Homo sapiens: one gene and its partners. The protein of the gene in region 3 interacts with the protein of the main gene of each other region in a pairwise test. Each region holds a gene or a part of one and is shown on either strand. Other genes may lie near its edges.

The links.
Region 1: the proteins of LHX2 (region 3) and FLYWCH1 interact in binary tests that used the Homo sapiens proteins (3 or more experiments, as listed by UniProt).
Region 2: the proteins of LHX2 (region 3) and ANKS1A interact in a two-hybrid assay, tested with the Homo sapiens proteins (one large-scale study listed by BioGRID).
Region 4: the proteins of LHX2 (region 3) and MORN3 interact in binary tests that used the Homo sapiens proteins (3 or more experiments, as listed by UniProt).
Region 5: the proteins of LHX2 (region 3) and BEND2 interact in binary tests that used the Homo sapiens proteins (3 or more experiments, as listed by UniProt).
Region 6: the proteins of LHX2 (region 3) and KHK interact in binary tests that used the Homo sapiens proteins (3 or more experiments, as listed by UniProt).

The regions. Positions count from the first base shown.
Region 1 is NC_000016.10:2,942,931-2,946,430, reverse strand, and holds part of FLYWCH1 (FLYWCH-type zinc finger-containing protein 1), read right to left. Parts: intron 3,105-3,500; exon of another isoform or gene 2,947-3,104; intron 1-2,946. UniProt on the Homo sapiens protein: Transcription cofactor. Negatively regulates transcription activation by catenin beta-1 CTNNB1, perhaps acting by competing with TCF4 for CTNNB1 binding. May play a role in DNA-damage response signaling.
Region 2 is NC_000006.12:35,011,255-35,014,754, forward strand, and holds part of ANKS1A (ankyrin repeat and SAM domain-containing protein 1A), read left to right. Parts: intron 1-3,500. UniProt on the Homo sapiens protein: Regulator of different signaling pathways. Regulates EPHA8 receptor tyrosine kinase signaling to control cell migration and neurite retraction.
Region 3 is NC_000009.12:124,031,285-124,033,801, reverse strand, and holds the end of LHX2 (LIM/homeobox protein Lhx2), read right to left. Parts: intron 1,383-2,517; coding exon 1,095-1,382; 3' UTR 501-1,094; downstream 1-500. UniProt on the Homo sapiens protein: Acts as a transcriptional activator. Stimulates the promoter of the alpha-glycoprotein gene. Transcriptional regulatory protein involved in the control of cell differentiation in developing lymphoid and neural cell types.
Region 4 is NC_000012.12:121,650,449-121,652,654, forward strand, and holds part of MORN3 (MORN repeat-containing protein 3), read right to left. Parts: intron 1,197-2,206; 3' UTR 1-1,196. UniProt on the Homo sapiens protein: Assembles a suppression complex (suppresome) by tethering SIRT1 and MDM2 to regulate composite modifications of p53/TP53.
Region 5 is NC_000023.11:18,200,387-18,203,886, forward strand, and holds part of BEND2 (BEN domain-containing protein 2), read right to left. Parts: coding exon 3,115-3,500; intron 1,555-3,114; coding exon 1,429-1,554; intron 1-1,428.
Region 6 is NC_000002.12:27,089,772-27,093,271, forward strand, and holds part of KHK (ketohexokinase), read left to right. Parts: intron 1-2,560; coding exon 2,561-2,677; intron 2,678-3,500. UniProt on the Homo sapiens protein: Catalyzes the phosphorylation of the ketose sugar fructose to fructose-1-phosphate.

The DNA of each region.
Region 1 (3,500 bases), on a different chromosome or scaffold from region 3:
AGAATCGCTTGAACCTGGGAGGCGGAGGTTGCAGTGAGCCGAGATCTCACCACTGCAGTCCAGCCTGGGGGACAGAACGAGACTCCATCTCAAAAAAAAAAAAAAAAAAAAAAAGTACAGCCCACCTATACAGGGCATGAATTATGAATGGAGCTTGCAGGGTGGGAAGTTGCTGTGGGTGGGTGAGTGAACGTGGAGGCCTAAAGCATTAGTGTATGTCCTGCACACTTAGTATACAACACTCAACACTCAGGCTACACTCATTTTTAAACACTTTCTTCAGTAATAAATTAACCTAAGCTTACTGTAACTTGATGTTTAAACTTTTTGCTTTTTTTAATTACACTCAGTTTAAAACACAAATACATTGTACAGCTGTACAAAAATATTTTCTTTAGAACCTCATTCTACAAGCTTTTATTTATTTATTTTTTGACATGGAGTCTCGCTCTGTTGCCCAGGCTGGAGTGCAGTGTCGCAATCTCGGCTCACTGCAAGCTCTGCCTCCCGGGTTCACGCCATTCTCCTGCCTCAGCCTCCCGAGTAACTGGGACTACAGGCACCTGCCACCACGCTCGGCTAATTTTTTGTATTTTTAGTAGAGATGGGATTTCACCATGTTAGCCAGGATGGTCTTGATCTCCTGATCTCATGATCTGCCCACCTTGGCCTCCCAAAGTGCTGGGATTACAGGCATGAGCCACCGCACCCGGCCTCTATAAGCTTTTATTTTTAAGGATTTTAAAATTTTTAAGTTGGACTTTAATTTTTTGAGACAGTATTTTTTTTTTTTTTTTTGAGATGTAGTCTTCCAGGCTGGAGAGCAGTGGCACGATCTCGGTGCACTGCCACGATCTCAGTGCACTGCAGCCTCAGCTTCCCAAGTAGCTGGGATTACAGGTGTGTGCCACCATGCCTGGCTAATTTTTTTTTTTTTTTTTTTTTGAGATGGAGTCTCGCTCTGCCACCAGGCTGGAATGCAGTGGCATGAATGTCGGCTCACTGCAACCTCCAACTCCCTGGTTCAAGCAATTCTCCTACCCCAGCCTCCCGAGTAGCTGGGATTACAGGCACACGCCACCACGCCCAGCTGATTTTTGTATTTTTAGTAGAGACGGGATTTTACCGTGTTAGCCCGGACGGTCTTGATCTCCTGACCTCGTGATCCGCCTGCCTCGGCCTCCCAAAGTGCTGGGATTACAGGCGTGAGCCACTGTACCTGGCTAATTTTTGTATTTTTAGTAGTAGAGATGGAGTTTCTTCACGTTGGCCAGGCTGGTTTTGAACTCCTGACCTCAAGTGATCCACCCACCTCAGCCTCCCAAAGTGCTGGGATTACAGGTGTGAGCCACCATGCCCGGCCAAGGATTTGAATTTTTTGCTTAAAAACTAAGACACACACTATCCTAGGCCTGCACAGGGTCAGGGTCATCCATGTCACCATCTTCGACCTCCACATCTTGTCCCACTGGAAGGTCTTCAGGGACAATAATACATTTAGAGCTGTCATCTCCTATGACGACAGTGCCTTCTTTTGGATACCTCCAAAAAGTCTTGAAGGACCTGCCTGAGGCCGTTTTACAGTTAAAAAAAATTTTTTTTTTTTTTTGATACAGAGTCTCACTCTGTTGCCCAGGCTGGAGGGCAGTGGCACCATCTCAGCTCACTGCAACCTCCACCTCCCAGGTTAAGCGATTCTCACGCCTCAGCCTCCCAAGTAGCTGGGATTACAGGCTGGCGCCACCATGCCTAGCTAATTTTTGTATTTTTAGTAGAGACGGGGTTTCACCATGTTTCCCAAGCTGGTCTGGAACTCCTGACCTCAGGGGATCTGCCTGCCTCAGCCTACCAAAGTGCTGGGATTATAGGTGTGAGCCAATGCTGTGGCTGGCCTACAGTTGACTTTTTAAATAAGTAGGAGTATATTCTAAAGTAATGATAAAAAGTATAGTAAATAATCTAATAACATATTTATTATCATTATCAAATATTAGGTACTATACATAATTGTATGTGATCTTTTTTTTTTTTTTTTTGAGATGGAGTTTCACTCTTGTCACCCAGGCTGGATGGAGTGCAATGGCACAATCTCGGCTCACCACAACCTCCACCTCCCAGTTTCAAGCGATTCTCCTGCCTCAGCCTCCCAAGTAGCTGGGATTACAGGTGCGCTGTACCTGTAGCCAAGCCTGGCTATTGTATTTTTAGTAGAGACGGAGTTTCTCCATGTTCCCCAGGCTGGTCTGGAATTCCTGACCTCAGGTGATCCGCCCGCCTCAGCCTCCCAGAGTGCTGGGATGACAGGTGGGAGCTGTCGTGCTCTACTTTTATTTCTGAGACAGGTTCTCTCTCCGTCCGCTGGGCTGGAGTGTAGATGCATGATCACAGCTCACTGCAGCCTCAACCTCCCAGGCTCAGGTGACACTTCCATCTCAGCCTCCGAAGTAGCTGGGCATGTACCACCACACACAGCTAATTTTTAAATTTTTTTGTAGAGACGGGATCTCACTATGTTGCCCAGGCTGGAGTGCAATGTCGTGATCTTGGCTCACTGCAACCTCCACCTCCCGGGTTCAAGTGATTCTCCTGCCTCAGCCTTCCAAGTAGCTGGGATTACGGGTGCTCGCCACCACGCCTGGCTAATTTTTTGTATTTTGAGTAGAGACAGAGTTTCACTATGTTGGCCAGGCTGGTCTCGAACGCCTGACCTCAGGTCATCCGCCCACCTCGGCCTCCCAAAGTACTGGGATTACAGGCGTGAACCCCCGCGCCTGGCCTGCTTGTGGGGGTTTTCACGGATGCTCTTGATCAGGCTGAAGAAACTCCTTTTATTCCTAGTTTGTTGAATGTTTTTATCATGAAAGCGTGTTGGAGGTTGTCAAATGTTTTGTGTCTATTCAGTGATCACACGGTTTTTGTCCTTTTCTCTACTGATCTGGTATGCAGGCATCCCCATCACACACTAGGCTTGGTGACTGCACTTGAGGGACTCACAGGACTTAGCCTACCATCATACTAGTGGCTGGGATTTACTACGGTGAAAAGATGCGACGCAGAATTAGTAACAGGAAGATGCATTTGGGGTGAGGGCCGGAGGAAACCAGGTACAAGCCCCCAGAGTCCCCTCCCCTGGGGTCCCCTCCCGCAGAATGTGCTGAATCCTCCAGCCTCGAGCTGTGACATGTGCAAAGTGTTCTCTACCAGGGAAGCCTGCCTGAGCCCAGGAGTCCAGGGTTTTCACTGGGGGTTGCTCATGTAGGTACGTTGTGCCTGCGTGACTGAATATGGTCACCGAAATGCCAGGCTCAGAAGAAAAGCAAGTGTTCAGCAAATATCACATGATTTGTATAGAAAAGAGTGAGCAGTTGTTATTTGGGGATAGTATTGTATCCACATAGGAGCTCTTTACCAGTCAAGTTCCCAGATGCCAGCTGGGCGTGGTGGCTCATGCCTGTAATCCCAGCACTTTAGGAGTCCGAGGCGGGTGGATCACTTGAGGT
Region 2 (3,500 bases), on a different chromosome or scaffold from region 3:
CCAGCAACTGGAGAAGAGAAAGCAAATGGCTATGAATACCCACTACAAGAACTGGCAGAAGATCAAGGGGAGCAAAGACAGCAAATATGCTATTAAATTAGGCATGGTTAGAAATCGTGGCTGGTTGGAAGCTGATCCAGGCAAAGCTGGTATATTGAAAACTAGGGAAGTTTGGGGGCCAGAGGTCAGAGGTCCAATGACAGGTAGAGAACAGACGCTTTAGGAGTTCAAGAAGAAGGGGGAGATGTAATGAGGTAATCAAGACCAAGTCAATGTGAAACAGTCCGAAGTCCCAAAGCTGGGCTATACCTATGGGCCCCAAGGTGAGTACAGATGGCTCCTAATCTGAAGATTCTCCACTGTGCTATTACATGTAATCCCAAACCAAACTTATAAGAATACTGGCCTTCCCTGGCATTTGAGTTTTATTCTGCCTCTTTAAAAGGGCTACTCAGAATAAATCAGTCTCCTTTGCAGAGTCAGGAGAAGGGAAACCAGCCTCTCTGTGCAGTGTTAGCATGATGAGCTAAGAGTTCAGAAATGACTGTAAATGAAAAATGGTGATAATGATAGCAGCTATCATTTACTGAATGCTTCCCACGGGCCAGCTGCCATGCTGATTTCCTTTATGTTGATTATGTCATTGTATATCTTGTGACAGATCTTCAGGGTAGGGGCTATTTTTGTCCCTGTTTCAGAGCTGAGGAAGAAAAGGTTAGGTATTGGAGCTGAGACTTAAACCCTAGTGTGACTGAATCCAAAGCCTGTACTTTTAACCATGAGGCTAAAACCATTTCATCAAAAGCCTTTCTGCTATTCATGTTCTTAACATCATAGAACTGGTAGGGACTATAGAGAGGTCCTTTAATCACAGATTCAAACTAGCCTAAATCCCAAAGCCCTGGAGAATGCATCCCAGGCATTCATTTTTTGAAAGAGACCTAGAGAGGAAAAGTCACGGGGCTGGAACTAAAACATGGGCTTCTTGAATCCCTGTCTAGCTCTTATTCTATTTCTCAGGTTGCCGTGGACCAAAATGAACTCTCAGTCTATTTGTCTTATCAAATTGCAGTCTTCAGCAAGTGTCTGAATAACTTGGTCAGGACCTTCCTTCCAGGAAGAGCCTGGTGACCCTCTGAAAGCAGCCATGTACTTGGGAGTTCTCCTGCACACCCATGGTTTTTGATGCTCACTATAGTGACTAGGCAGCTGGAGGATTCCAATCCTAATGATACGGAGAACACAAAACAATATGAGACACTGGGTCCCCCAGCCTTCTTCTCTGGGCCTGAGGGGAGATTTGAATTAGCAACTCCTCACATGAGCTGCATTCTTTAGCCTTAATTTAAGTGGGCAGAGGTGAATGAAAATGTGTAAATGTTGAAGTGTTATTATTCAAAAGCCCTTGAGATCCCATAGCTCATCGTAGTAATTAAAATGCAGCACAGAAGACCCCTTGCTTCAGTAGCTCACAGGGTATAAGGAAAATGAATGAGGATCACAAGTTGATGGGATTGGGAATTAGCATGCTGGTGTGCCATATTGAGTAGAACAGCTGGCCTCGATGTATGGGTAGCATAAGAAACAGGCCTCCCTCCCTGTGTGCCACTATCTCCTTGTTTCTCTCCTAGAAGGGCAGACTGTGGGGAGGGCAGAGCTCGGGGAACATGGGAAGTAGTGTAGGAGAAAGGCCTAAGGGTCTCTTCTGCAACTTCACTAGTCCCTGGGCGTGAGGTTTGTTGCCCAGGGTGGTCTCTAACTCCTGAGCTCAAGTGATCCTCCTCTCTCAGCCTCCCAAAGTGCTGGGATTACAGGCATGTACTGCCACACCTGGCCCTTCTCTGCCTTTTCTAATGTATTTTTACTTCTCTGTAAGCCTGACAAGGTCTTATTTCTCCTTCAGTGCTCAGCTCGAAAGCTACCTCTTCTGAGAAGCCTTCTGGTTCGAAGTAATCAGGCTTTCCTTTTTGTCTGCCAAGCATATGATTTATGCCTGTCTTAAAGCATCTATTGAGGCAGACTTGGTGTCTTTATTTTTTTTATTTTTTATTTTTTGGTGAGACAAGGTCTCGCTGTGTCTCCCAGGCTGGAGTGCAGTGGCATGATCACAGCTCACTGCAGCCTTGAATTCCTGGACTCAAATTATCCTCCCATCTCAACCTCCCAAGTAGCTGGGACAGCAGGTGTGCACCACCACACCCAGCTAATTTTTAAATTGTTTATAGAGATGAGGTCTCGCCATGTTGCCCAAGCTGATCTTGAACTCCTGAGCTCAAGCAATCCTCCCACCACAGGCTCCCAAAGCGTTGGGATTACAGGCGTGAGCCACCACACCCGGCCTCTTTATCCTCATATCCACCTGGGTGCCTCCTGAGGACAGACACTTCATACATTTGTCCATGGGATGAGTGGTTACAGTGACAGTTCTGGGGCCTGTCTCAGAGTTTCTCACTTCAGCCCTCTCACCATATTACCTTCTGTCCCTTCCTTCTGCTGTTCAGAGTTATAAGGATGGTGAAGGTAATGAATGCTTGTGAAGTGCTTTATATCTTACAGAGTACTTTCATGTACCTTATCTTTGATGATCCTTGTGACAGACCTGTGAGGAACGGAGAAGTAGTTGGTCTCATCTGTGAGCAAAGTGTGTTGTAACGGACCCTGTGTGGAGGATAATAACAATTTCAACATCTATTGAGAGCGTGGCATGTGCTAGACACGGTTCTTAATGCATTACACGTATAATTTAATTACCGCAACAATCCCCCAATTAAGATCCCAGAATTGCACAAAGAAGTGATTTGCTTAAAAACTGCTTCTTGATCAGTATATTCTATTGTTAGCACCTTGTCCCTAAGAGACCTTATATTATCCTTACTTTGCAGAAGGAAGAAACCATTGAGTAATTCTTTTCCCACCCATTGATCTGCCAAAAAAAACTCATCTTGGCCTTGGATGTAGTTTTTAATGGGAACAAGAACACCAGCCTTAGGGTCTTGGATCTCGGCAAGCTTTTCAGATACCAAAGTGTCTTTCTTAGGAATTGCCTGGCTAAGTCATATGATTATAAGAATTTCTTTCCATCATTTCTTATATTCCACAAAATATTGGTGGATTGTGGTTTCTCTAATAGGATTATGACCCTCAGAGATTCTTCCTCCACATATTTCCTTCCTCCGTAAGTTTCCATTCTTTCCTTCTACCCACTTCCTTCCCCTTGGCATGTGTCTGGTATTGAGCCCTTGGCATCTGTCTCTCTTTCATCATTGATAGCTAGCATGAATGGGTGGCTGTTTCACAGGGCCTGCATTGTTGGCTCCCACAGCAGCAGTTAGAACATTCTCTGTGGCCTGGGTTCTGAGGTCCACCCAGGCAGTGTGAGCCAGGCTGGCCCCCAGTTCTGAGCTGTGGTGTTTCCTTTCATTGTTGGTGCCTTAGCTCCCAGTTGTTAAATATGAAGCTGGAAGTTGATACAAAGCAGTAGAAGCCTGTGCTCCTTTTAC
Region 3 (2,517 bases):
TTTTGTGTCATTAGGAAAACTGGAGCTTAAGCTGCCCTTTGTTAACTGCGTTCACTCCTCGTAGGGAAAAGCTGCAGGTTTTTCAGGAGGCCTCCCTCATCGCCTGACATGCCTTCTTTCCAGCCCAGCCAGGAGCAGAAAAGGGCCTCTGACCTCTGCATCACAAGCATCTGGCAGGGTGTGCTCATTAAATATTTGAAAGAATGAATGAATGAATAATGAATGAATGAATGAATGGGATGTTGCATATCCTCCACTTGAGCACATATCACACCCTGTTAAGATATCTTTTGTCTGTCCCGTGTCACCATTCTGATTCCTTGAGAGCAGGAATTGGATCTTTGTCTCGGCATCTCTGTAATCCGTCCAAAGCCTGGCACAAGACAGGAGCCCCAGGAATATCTGATGAATATGTGAAGACCTAGAATTGATCTCTGGGCCTCAGTAAAACTCTTAGGTCCTGTCAATTTCACACCCAACCAAATGGCAGCAGCCCCAAGTAGTTTCAATAAGTGGTTTTATTACTGGTTAGATTTTACAAATTCTGATATTCGAACAGACTTCCACCTTAAAATTCTAAAACAACAAAGCGACCGTTGGAGGGGGTTTGATTTTTCCTTTTTTTTTTTTCTTTTTTTCTTTTTAGGACTATTCAAAGTAACAAACTTTTTTTGTTGTTTTTTTTGTTTTTTACATTTTTGCTCTGGTCATAAATATACAGAGAAAAAGAGGGAGAGAAAAATGAACAAGTCATCCAAAGTATGGAGATAAAACAGTATTCCTAAGGCACGTGGCAGTCTTTGAAAATACAGAAGCTCTAGCCAACTTAAATTATTTGTTGTTTTTCCTCGCTCAGTCCACAAAACTGTACAGTGACACAAATGTTGTGTTGCAGGTAGATCTTCCAAGTTGTTCCTCGGTCCACACCGCTGCATTAGCCGGGCGCACACTTCTTTTTTTTACCTCTGTTTCCAGGCGAGATCCTAAAATGTGGTTAGTTAGTTGCTCAAAGCCTCTATTTTAAAATACACTTGGAATTCAACTAAAGATAATTTCTTTTTTAAAGAAATTGTGGGGTGAGGGGTTGCGAGTCATTAGAAAAGGTTGGTAAGAGTCGTTTGTGAGGGGCTGTGAGGCTCATGGCCCTCCAGGTTGCCAGGCACAGAAGTTAAGACGGACGTCACAGTTGGCAGGGTGGGGCTAGTCAAGTCTGTCAGGGTGGTGGGCGTGCTGGAGGGGCTGAGCGAGGCGTTGGAGAGCTCCGAGGCCGGGCCCGATGGCGTCCCTGTCTGCAGCGCCGCGTCTGTCGACTTGTCCACGCCCGTGTTTTCCTGCCGTAAGAGGTTGCGCCTGAACTTGGCTCGGGCGTTCTGGAACCAGACCTGCGGGGGACGACAGGGAAGGGCTGGTGAGCGGAAGGCAGGCAGAGCATCCCCCCGACTGCTTCACTCAGAGCTCTGCTGCCTCTGGGGACGCTGATCTGTGTTTTGCCAAGAGGATCCAAAAAGTCAGGTTGGCAATATTTTGCTTTTTTGGTTTTTTTGTTTTTGTTTTTGTTTGCAGACAGGGTCTGGCTTGGTCCCCCAGGCTGAAGTGCAGTGACACAATCTCGACTCACTGCAGCTTCTAACTCCTGGGATCAAGCGATCCTCCCGCCTCAGCCTCCTGGGTAGCTGGGGCTATAGATAGGTGAGCACCACCGGCCCCGCTAACTTTTTAAGTTATTTTTTGTAGAGACGGGGTCTTGCAATGTTGACCAGGCTGGTCTCAAACTCCAGGCTTCAAGTGATCCCTCCTGCCTCAGCCTCCTAAAGCGTTGGGATTACAGATGTGAGCCACTGCACCTGGCCAATATTTTGCTCTTAATAAAATAAAACAAAAATTTCACTCTATCTAATGGGCTACGGCTGGGCTTCTCTTTCTGATAGGTGGTTCCAGAGCTGAGCTGTACTCCCGAATATCACAGCCACGAGCCACGTATGGCTGCTGAGCACTTAAAATGGCATTAGCCCAAATTCAACCAGTCTGCAGGTGAAAACACACAACCTATCTGAAGGCTGAATATGAAAAAAAAAGCAGGTAGAATATCTCAATAATTTTTATATTGATTACATGTCGAAATGATTAATAGTTTGGCTATACTGAGTTAAGCAAAATACATTATTAAAATTAATTTTACTTTTACTTGTCTCTCTTCATTTCTTCAAGGAGGCTACTAGGACATTTAAAACTTAAAATTAAATGTGTGCCTCATGTTGCATTTCTATCAGACACACCAAACACACACACCAGACAAATCTTGATCCTTTTCCTAATGGTTCTTTGAGACATTCCTTTTTTTTTTTTCTTTTTCCTTTTTTGGCAGTTGCCTTTCAGCAGACAATAAACCCCACAAGTTCTTGTTGGTAAAATGTTTTAAATGTTTTGTGGTCAGTAAGTCTGGGAATGCGATAAAGAACACATGAGAATCAGGCAATAATAATGAGTTACTAAGAGGAAGTGAAAGACACGGAACCT
Region 4 (2,206 bases), on a different chromosome or scaffold from region 3:
CAGGGAGGCGAGGTTGCAGTGAGCCGAGATTGTGCCACTGCACTCCAGCCTGGGTGACAGAGCAAGACTCTGTCTCAAAAAAAAAAAAAAAAAAAAAAAAAAGGCCAGGCTCGATGGCTCACACCTGTAATCCCAGCACTTTAGGAGACTGAGCGGGGCAGATCACGAGGTCAGGAGTTCAAGACCAGCCTGACCAACATGGTGATACCCCATCTCTACTAAAAATACAAAAATTAGCTGGGCTCAGTGGCATGCGCCTGTAATCCCAGCTACTCAGGAGGCTGAGGTAGGAGAATCGCTTGAACATGGGAGGCAGAGGTTGCAGTGAGCTGAGATCGCGCCACTGCATTCCAGCCTGGGCAATAGAGGGAGACTACGTCTTAAAAAAAAAAAATCACCTGGGGAATTTTCTGAAAGCTCAGGCCTCACCCCAGATGAATTAGATGTGAACCTGTGAATCTCTGGGCATGGGACCTGGGCTTCCACAGCTTTGCAAAGTTTCCATGGGATTTCAAGGTTGAGAGCCCTGTGTTAGGCTGAGAAGTGGTCAGGAAATTTTATGATCTCCAATCTTGGCAGCCAGTGTGGCAGGATACAGGCCTTCTCTCTGGGTCATCTGGGTTATCTCACAGGGGACCTGCCATTTCTTTCTCTTTTTCTTTTCCTTTCTTTTATATTTTAAAATTTTTTTTTGTAGAGTCAGGGTCTTGCTATGTTGCCTAAGCTGGTCTCGAACTCCTGGCCTCAGGCAGTCCTCTTACCTTGGCCTCCCAAGTTCTGGGATTACAGGAATGAGCCACTGCACCCGGCCTAAGACCTGCCCTTACTCCCCCAAGCTAAACCCAGGCAGCCCAGCCAAGGCAGGTCTTCCCTCTTCTAAACCTGAAAGCCCTGCTGAGCCCCCTCGAGTGCCCCATCCTTATCCCATAGGCCCAGGCTTATACCACTTGGTTATTCTTTATTCTCATGCATTCCAGGATGAGATCAGAGAATGAAGAGGGTCCCGAGGACAGCCTGGGAGAGAAGCACCAGCCTTCCTATTGGCAAGAAATGACCCAGTGCTGGGGGTAGTGAGGGGCCCTATGAGGGTGCCGGGGTCATGCCTGGAGCTGCTGCTGACTCCTCCAGCCAGAGCCGCACTGGTCTGAGCGATCGGGTGACACAGGCTTGAATTTCTCCTGAAGCGTTTGTGTTCTCTGCAGGGGAGAGAGGGATGGTGGAGCTGGCATTTGAAAGACGCTGTTACCAATGTCCTCTCCTCAAACCCTCACATCATGCCCAGGAGGACTTGGACTGGACAAGACCCCACTGGACAGATGTGTAAATGGAGGCTGAAGGCCAACTGCCTTACTCAAGGGTGTTCAGAAGCCAGGAGACCACCTCCTTTCAACCCCGTGCCCAGCTCAGTTGTGTGGCCCAGGGTGCAAATAGAAGGTTTCAGGCAGGACTGGAATGCACTGGTCTTCAGTGAAATGGTTTGTTTGTTTGTTTATTTGTTTGTTTGTTTGTTTTTTGAGACACAGTCTCACCCAGACTGGAGTGCAGTGGCACAGTCTCAGCTCACTGCAACCTCTGCCTCCCAGGTTCAAGCAATTCTCTGCCTCAGCCTCCTGAGTAGCTGGAATTACAGGTGCCCTCCCCCACGCCCAGCTAATTTTTGTGTTTTTAGTACAGATGGGGTTTCACCATCTTGGCCAAGCTAGTCTTGAACTCCTGACCTCGTGATCCACCCACCTCGGCCTCCCAAAGTGCTGGGATTACAGGATTATAGGATTACTGTGCCTGGCGAGTTTTGTTTTTTTTGAGACAGAGTCCCATTCTGTCGCCCAGGCTGGAGTGCAGTGGTGCAATCTCAGCTCACTGCAACCTTCACCTCCCGGGTTCAAGTGATTCCCCTGCCTCAGCCTCTCGAGTAGCTGGGACTACAGGTGCCTGCCACCACACCTGGCTAACTTTTATATTTTTAGTAGAGATGGGGTTTCACCATGTTGGCCAGGCTGGTCTCAAATTCCTGACCTCAACTTATCCGCCTGCCTTGGCCTCCCAAAGTGCTGGGATTAAAGGCAAGAGCCACCACAGCCGGTCAAAAGGGGTTTTGAAGAGGAAGCGTCAAAAAGGACACCTGGGACTGTAGGAGGCAAGAAGCCTGCCCTCGATGGTCTTGCTCCCCCACTCCCCGACCCCAAGCCCTTTGGAGACCCCAGGA
Region 5 (3,500 bases), on a different chromosome or scaffold from region 3:
TAGCTATTCAGGAGGCTGAGGCATGAGAATTGCTTGAACCCGGGAGGCAGAAGTTGCAGTAAGCCAAGATCGCGCCACTGCATTCCAGCCTGGGCAACAGAGTAAGACTCTGTCTCAAAAAAAAAAAAAAAAAAAAGAAGAAAAGAAAGGAGGGAACTCTTGATACATGCAACAAGCTGGGTGAGTTTTCAGATAACTATACTGAGTGAAAAACACCAATACCCCAAAATTACATACTGTAACATTCCCTTAATATAACATTCTTGAAGTGACAAAATTATAAACAGAGAACAGATCAGTAGTTACCAGGTGTTAGGGATGGGGCAGGTTGGAAGGAAAGGATGACATGAGGAAAGTGAATGTGATTATCAAAGGGCAAGATGAGGCATCATTGCAGTGATAGAAACGTTCTATGTCTTCACTGGAGGTAGACATTAAAACTACTTGTGATAAAACTGCAAAGAACTAAATACACACACACAAATTAATTACAAGTAAACCTGGGAACATCTCAGTAAGATCTGTGGAGTGTATCAATGCCACTACCTTGGATGTGATATTTTACTATAGTTTTAAAGATGTCATCCTTTGGGGGAAATGGCTAAAGCATAAACAGTTCTCTGCATTATTTCTTACAACTGTGTGTGAATCTAAAATTATCTCAAACCGAAAAGTTTAGTTTGAAAAGAGTCACACTAGCTGACATTAAAAATACTGGTGAATCAGGCTGGGCGCAGTGGCTCACGCCTATAATCCCAGCACTTTGGGAGGCAGAGGCGGACAGATCACCCGAGGTTGAGAGTTGGAGACCAGCCTGACCAACATGGAGAAACCTCGTCTCTACTAAAAATACAAAAAAATTAGCCAGGCGTGGTGGTGCATGCCTATAATCCCAGCTACTTGGGAGGCTGAGGTAGGAGAATCACTTGAACCCAGGAGGCGGAGGTTGCAGTGAGCCGAGATCGCACCATTGTACTCCAGCCTGGGCAACAAGAGCAAAACTCCATCTCAAAAAAAAAAAAAAAAAAAAACAAAAAAAAAAAAACTGGTGGATCAAGGTTAAATAATGCTATTTGCAATATGTATCATTTCTTTTTTATGTATTTATGTATTTATTTATTTTGAGATGGAGTTTCGCTCTTGTTGCCCAGGCTGGAGTTAAGTGGCATGATCCCAGCTCACTGCAACCTCTGCCTCTGGGTTCAAGTGATTCTCCTGCCTCGGCCTCCGGAGTAGCTGGGATTACAGGTGCCCGCCACCACACCCGGCTAATTTTTTGTATTTTTAGTAGAGACGGGTTTTCACCATGTTGGTCAGGCTGGTCTCAAACTTCTGATGTCAGGTGATGCACCCGCCTCACCCTCCCAAAGTGCTGGGATTACAAGTGTGAGCCACCACGCCCAGCATTATGTATCATTTCAAACTCACCAAAATAGGGAGGGATGAAGACAGATAAAGAGGCAGTATTTTGGCCATTGTAATTTCCCATTAAAGTTGGATAATTCGCTGTCTCAGTGCTGTTTTTACTGCTGTTTGCTGGTCTTTCTGGCATTTCTGTAAATAAAAAGTTTTCAAGAGCTGTAATACAAGAACTTCACCCACAAATTCTATACAAAGCAAAATTATCCTTCAAGAAAGAAAGAGAAACAGACATTCACACACAAAGGAAAACAAAAAGAATTTGTCCCCAGCAGACTTACCCTTAAAGAAAGGTTAAAGAAAACTCCTCAATCAAAAAAAGAAGATGATGAAAGAAGGAATCTTGGAGCATCAGGAAGAAAGAACAAAAGAAAGAGCAGAAATATGCATTTAGAGAAAGTAGATCACCCATATATAGCTGGCAAGAATGTCAGATGATACAGCGCCCCTGGAAAATAGTTAGGCAGTTTCTCATAAAACTAAACATGCATATGTCCAAACTCATTACATTGGGTATAATAAATATGTGCAGTTTTTTACTTATCAATTACTATGGTTTGAAGGTATCCTTTCCAAAATTCAGGTGTTGCCAATGTGATCGTATTAAGAAATGGGACCTTTAAGATGATTAAGCTATGAGGGCTCCTCCCTCATGAATGGGATGGAGGCCCTTATAAAAGAGGCTTCACACGGCATTTTGAAATCTTGTCCTTCTACCTTCTGCCATGTGAGGACACAGTGCTCCTCTCTTGCAGAGGATGCAGCCCTCACCACACAAACCGGCTGGCACCTTGCTTTTGAACTTCCCAGCCTCTGGAGCTGTGAGAAACTACATTTCTGTTCTTTTTCAATCACCCAGTCTATGGTATTTTGTTATAGTAACACAAACAGACCAAGACATTAATATCTCAATAAAGATTTGTTTTTTTAAAAAAACCTAAACATGCAATTAATATATAACCAGCAGTTGCACTCTTGGGTAATCATGTCAGAGAAATGAAAACTTCCATTTACACAAAAACTTGTATATGAATTTTCATAGCAGCCTTACTACTAATAGTCAAAAACTGGAAAAATAATTTCCTTCAATAGATGAATGGTTAAACCATGGCACACCTATACCATGGAATAGTACTTGGCAATAAAGGAACTACTGAAACACACAACTTGGTTGAGTCTCCAGGGGATTATGTTGAGTAAAAAAAAGCCAGTACCAAAAGGTTACATACTATATGCATCCAATTATATAACAATATTGAAGTGACAAAATTATAGAGATGGAGAAGAGATCACACTTGCCAAAGGTTAGGAATAGGTAAGTGGGGGAAGGAAAAGGAGGATGGGTTTGGTTATAGAAAGGCAAGACAAGCAAACTTTCTGGTGATAGAACGGTTCTGTATCTTGACTATGGTAGGAACATACAAACTTTCTCATCTGATAAAATTGTTTTAAAAAAAAAAGCCGAAAGTCAGACACACAAATGAATACAAACTACAGTCTTATGAGATGTTACCACTGGGGAAAATTGGGGAAAGGGTATCTCTCTGTATTATTTCTTACAACTACATATGAATCTATAATGGCTTCAAGATAAAACTTTTAATTTAAAAAATAACTAACACTAATTTGCATGAAGGGTGTTTTAAAATCTAGATTGAAGAATGCTATCTGTAATATGTGTCATTTCAAACTCACCCAAATTGGGATGGAAGCAGAAAGATGACAAGGCTCTACCTGGGCCCACATTTTCATTTTCTGGTAGAGCAGAGTAATTCACCACACCAGGGTTATTTGCCAGACTGGATTCTCTTCGTGACAGAACTGCCATAGGTACTGCTGTAGTAGCATTGGCAAATGAGATGACAGCATTGGTACTTTCAGCACCTCCACTGATAAAGTTCCATGGCATACCGAAACAAGGAAATGAGCCACCTTGTGCGACATACTGCTGTAATGAACTTGAGGAGACAATTCTGGGATATGATAAACTCTCACTGAGGTCTGCTTCCTGCAGTTCATGACATGCTGCTGACTCAAGAGATGTTACAGCAGGGCTGGCCCAGGCATGGGTTTCCTGCCTT
Region 6 (3,500 bases), on a different chromosome or scaffold from region 3:
CCTAGGGTCTCTGTGCTTGACAGGCAGTTGGGGACTCTTGGGAGCCGCCACCTGGAGCTCAGCCAGACCCCTGGGACGTGTCCTTTTTTTTATTTTTTGAGTTGGAGTTTTGCTCTTGTTGCCCAGGCTGGAGTGCAATGGTGCGATCTTGGCTCACTGCAACCTCCGCCTCCAGAGTTCAAGCAATTCTCCTGCCTCAGCATCCCGAGTAGCTGGGATTACAGGCATGTGCCACCACACCCAACTAATTTTGTACTTTCAGTAGAGATGGGGTTTCTCCATGTTGGTCAGGATGGTCTCGAACTCCCGACGTCAGGCGATCCGCCTGCCTCAGCCTCCCAAAGTGCTGGGATTACAGGCGTGAGCCACCGCGCCCAGCCTTTAGCTGAGCATTTCTGCACAGGAAATATCAGTGTGACTTTGAAGGGTTTCCCCAGAGTAAAATTCTATATCCTTTCTTAGAAACCTCAATGCTTGGGCCTAACAACTTTTAGTTTTAAAATACGGAGTAATTAGCAATGGCTTTGGGGTCAGGAAATTGGGTTCCCACATCAGCTTTGTCCTTAACTATTGATCAAGTCAGATCCCTCGAGATTCCTCCTTTTTTTTCATATCTTTTCGTAAAAATTTCTGTAAAGCTGTAAAGCTCAGCTTGAAAATCTTTTTTTTCTTTTTTCTTTCTTTTTTTTTTTTTTTTTTTGGAGACAAAGTCTTACTCTGTCACCCAGGCTGGAGTGCAGTGGCATGATCTTGGCTCACTGCAACCTCTGCCTCCCGGGTTCAAAAGATTCTCCTGCCTCAGCCTCCCGAGTAGCAGGGATTACAGGCACCTGCCACCACACCCGGCTCATTTTTGTATTTTTAGTAGAGACAGGGTTTCAACATCTTGGCCAGGCTGGTCTTGAACTCCTGACCTCGTGATCCACCCGCCTCAGCCTCCCAAAGTGCTGAGATTATGGGCGTGAGCCACTGCGCCCGGCCAGCTTGAAAATCTTTGACCAGCTGGGTGCAGTGGCTCATACCTATAATCCCAGCACTTTGGGAGGCCAAGGCAGGAGGATCGCTTGAGCCGAGGAGTTCGGGACCAGCCTGGGCAACATAAGAAGATGCCATCTCTACGAAAAAATTTTTTAAATTAGCGGGGCATGGTGATGCACACCTATAATCCCAGCTACTTGGGAGACTAAGGTGGGAGGATCAGTTGAGCTGGGGAAGTTGAGGCTGCAGTGAACCATGATCATGCCATTGCACTCCAGCCTGGGTGACAGAGTGACTCTGTCTCAAAAAAACAAAAAAATTACTATCCTTTGTCATTGTTGTTATTGTTGTTTTTGAGACAGGATCTCACTCTGCCACCCAGGCTGGAGTGCAGTATCATGGCTCACCCCAGCCTAAACCTCCCGGGCTCATACGCTCCCCCAACTTCAGCCTCCTGAGTAGCTGGGACCACGGGTATGCACCACCATACCCAGCTAATTTTTAATTTTTTTTTTTTTTTTAGAGACAAGAGCTCCCTTTGGTTGCCCAGGCTGGTCTCGAACTTCTGGGCTCAAGTGATCCTCCTGCTTTGGCCTCCCAAAGTGCTGGGATTATAGGCATAAGCCACTGTGCCTGTCCTACTATCATTTTTTTTCTAATGACATCGTGCTCCCCTTTTCCCAAAACTGAAGTTTCGCGTACAAATATGCTTTGGCCTAAAAATTCTGGTTCGGTTTTTTCTCTTAATTCGTGGTTCTTTGGTACTGTTCCTTTTATTGTAAACTGCCACAATTATTATTATTATTGGAACTGGCACAATAGAAATAACACCACCATTCTTACCTCAAAGGTAATAACATTCATTAATGATTTCTCATTTGGGCTCCAGTAACACTGTGAGGGGATCAGTGCGTTGACCCTCTATGTGGAAGTTATCATTTTTGCTGCTGATGACAATGAAGCCCTTCACGTGTGTCTTGTTAGTTTCCTTTTGGTTGGTTTTTAGTAAAGATGGAGAAGTGCTCCCTGCTGCCACTTCTTAAACGACCAACGTCCAGGTTTGCTGTCCTGTCTTACTCGTTTGATTTTATAGCTCTGCAGTTTCTATTGAAGTAGACACTCCTAACACAGGGGTAGGTGTAAATGTGATACCTTTGGGAAGAGGCACTTAGTCCCCGAGGTCCTTGGAGTTGCTCCAGCTCTCAAGGAGGAGGCCAAAGGTGCAGCGTCTGGAGCAGCTCTGACTGGGGTGAAAGGTGAGGAGGAGATGACCTGGAGTTAGTGGGTCTCTCGAATAGTGATGGACCCAAGTGAGTGGTTTCCTGTTGCCCTAGGAACAGATGGAAATATTGAAAGGAACTGCTGTCAGCTTGAATTTAGCCTGGGCTGGGGAGGTAGACACCGCTCTCAGCCAAGCTCCTTCCCTTGGCCGGCCTCGGCTGCCCCGGGTACAAAGTGAGACGTCGGCCTAGATGCTTTCTGAGAGGAGTCCCCAGCTGTTACATTCTGTAGGCCCCTATACAGGAGACTGTGCTTGGGATCAGCCTGCTGGGGCTGCAGGGACCCTCCCTGTGCTTTGCAGGTGTTTGTCCCAGAGATGGCAGCGCGGAGGCAACGCGTCCAACTCCTGCACCGTTCTCTCCCTGCTCGGAGCCCCCTGTGCCTTCATGGGCTCAATGGCTCCTGGCCATGTTGCTGAGTAAGTCCAGGAGGGAGAGCCCACTGGGGAAGGCCTGCCTGCATCATTGTGGGAGAAGAAGGATGTATCCACCCTGGGTGGATGGGGGATTAGAAATGGGTTGTGTCCAGCAGAAACGCGGGGAGGGGGCATGGCGGAGCACCAGACGCCCAGCCCTGCCTTGGCGTGGCCTCTCTGCGGTTCGGGGGCTGATGCTGCCCCTGTGAAGCTTTCCTTGCCACAGCTTGTTTCCTGGACACTTCTGGAGCCTGCTTCAGCCTCTTCCTTTCTCCTTCCTTGCTTCCTGCAGACTCTGCGGTGGATGTGCCTTTGCCTTATCTTAAGTCCCTTATCCTGGCCATGCTTGAGGCAGAAGGCAGTTAGGGACACGTGGTACCCATCCTCCCCCAGGTCCAGGCCCACAGTTTCTGTCCCAGTTGAGAGGCAGGGCTGGTGCTCATGTCCCTGTTGTTCACTGAAGCAGTGAGAGTACCCTGTTCAAGGACACCCTGAAGCCACATGCTAAAGCTGGGCTCAGAACCCACACCTCCCAGTTCCCCGGCTGTCAGGGCTATAGCCCTAAATGGCTCATGCACGCCCTCCATGTTGGCTGCTGCAGGGACCTCAGAGCCCTTTGACCCCTGGCGCTGCCGACTCAGCAAGCACTTATCGGGAGGTGAGGCCCACACTTTGCACACTGTGGGCACGGGGGCAGGCTGCCAGGTTGCTGGCCTGTGAAGGGCAGCCCTTTGAACCCTGGTTTGAAGGGGGCTGCTGGCAGAGTCCAACCACCTGAGCTACAGCCAAACTCCCTGCCTTGATGAACTGGCAGGAAGAGAATAGA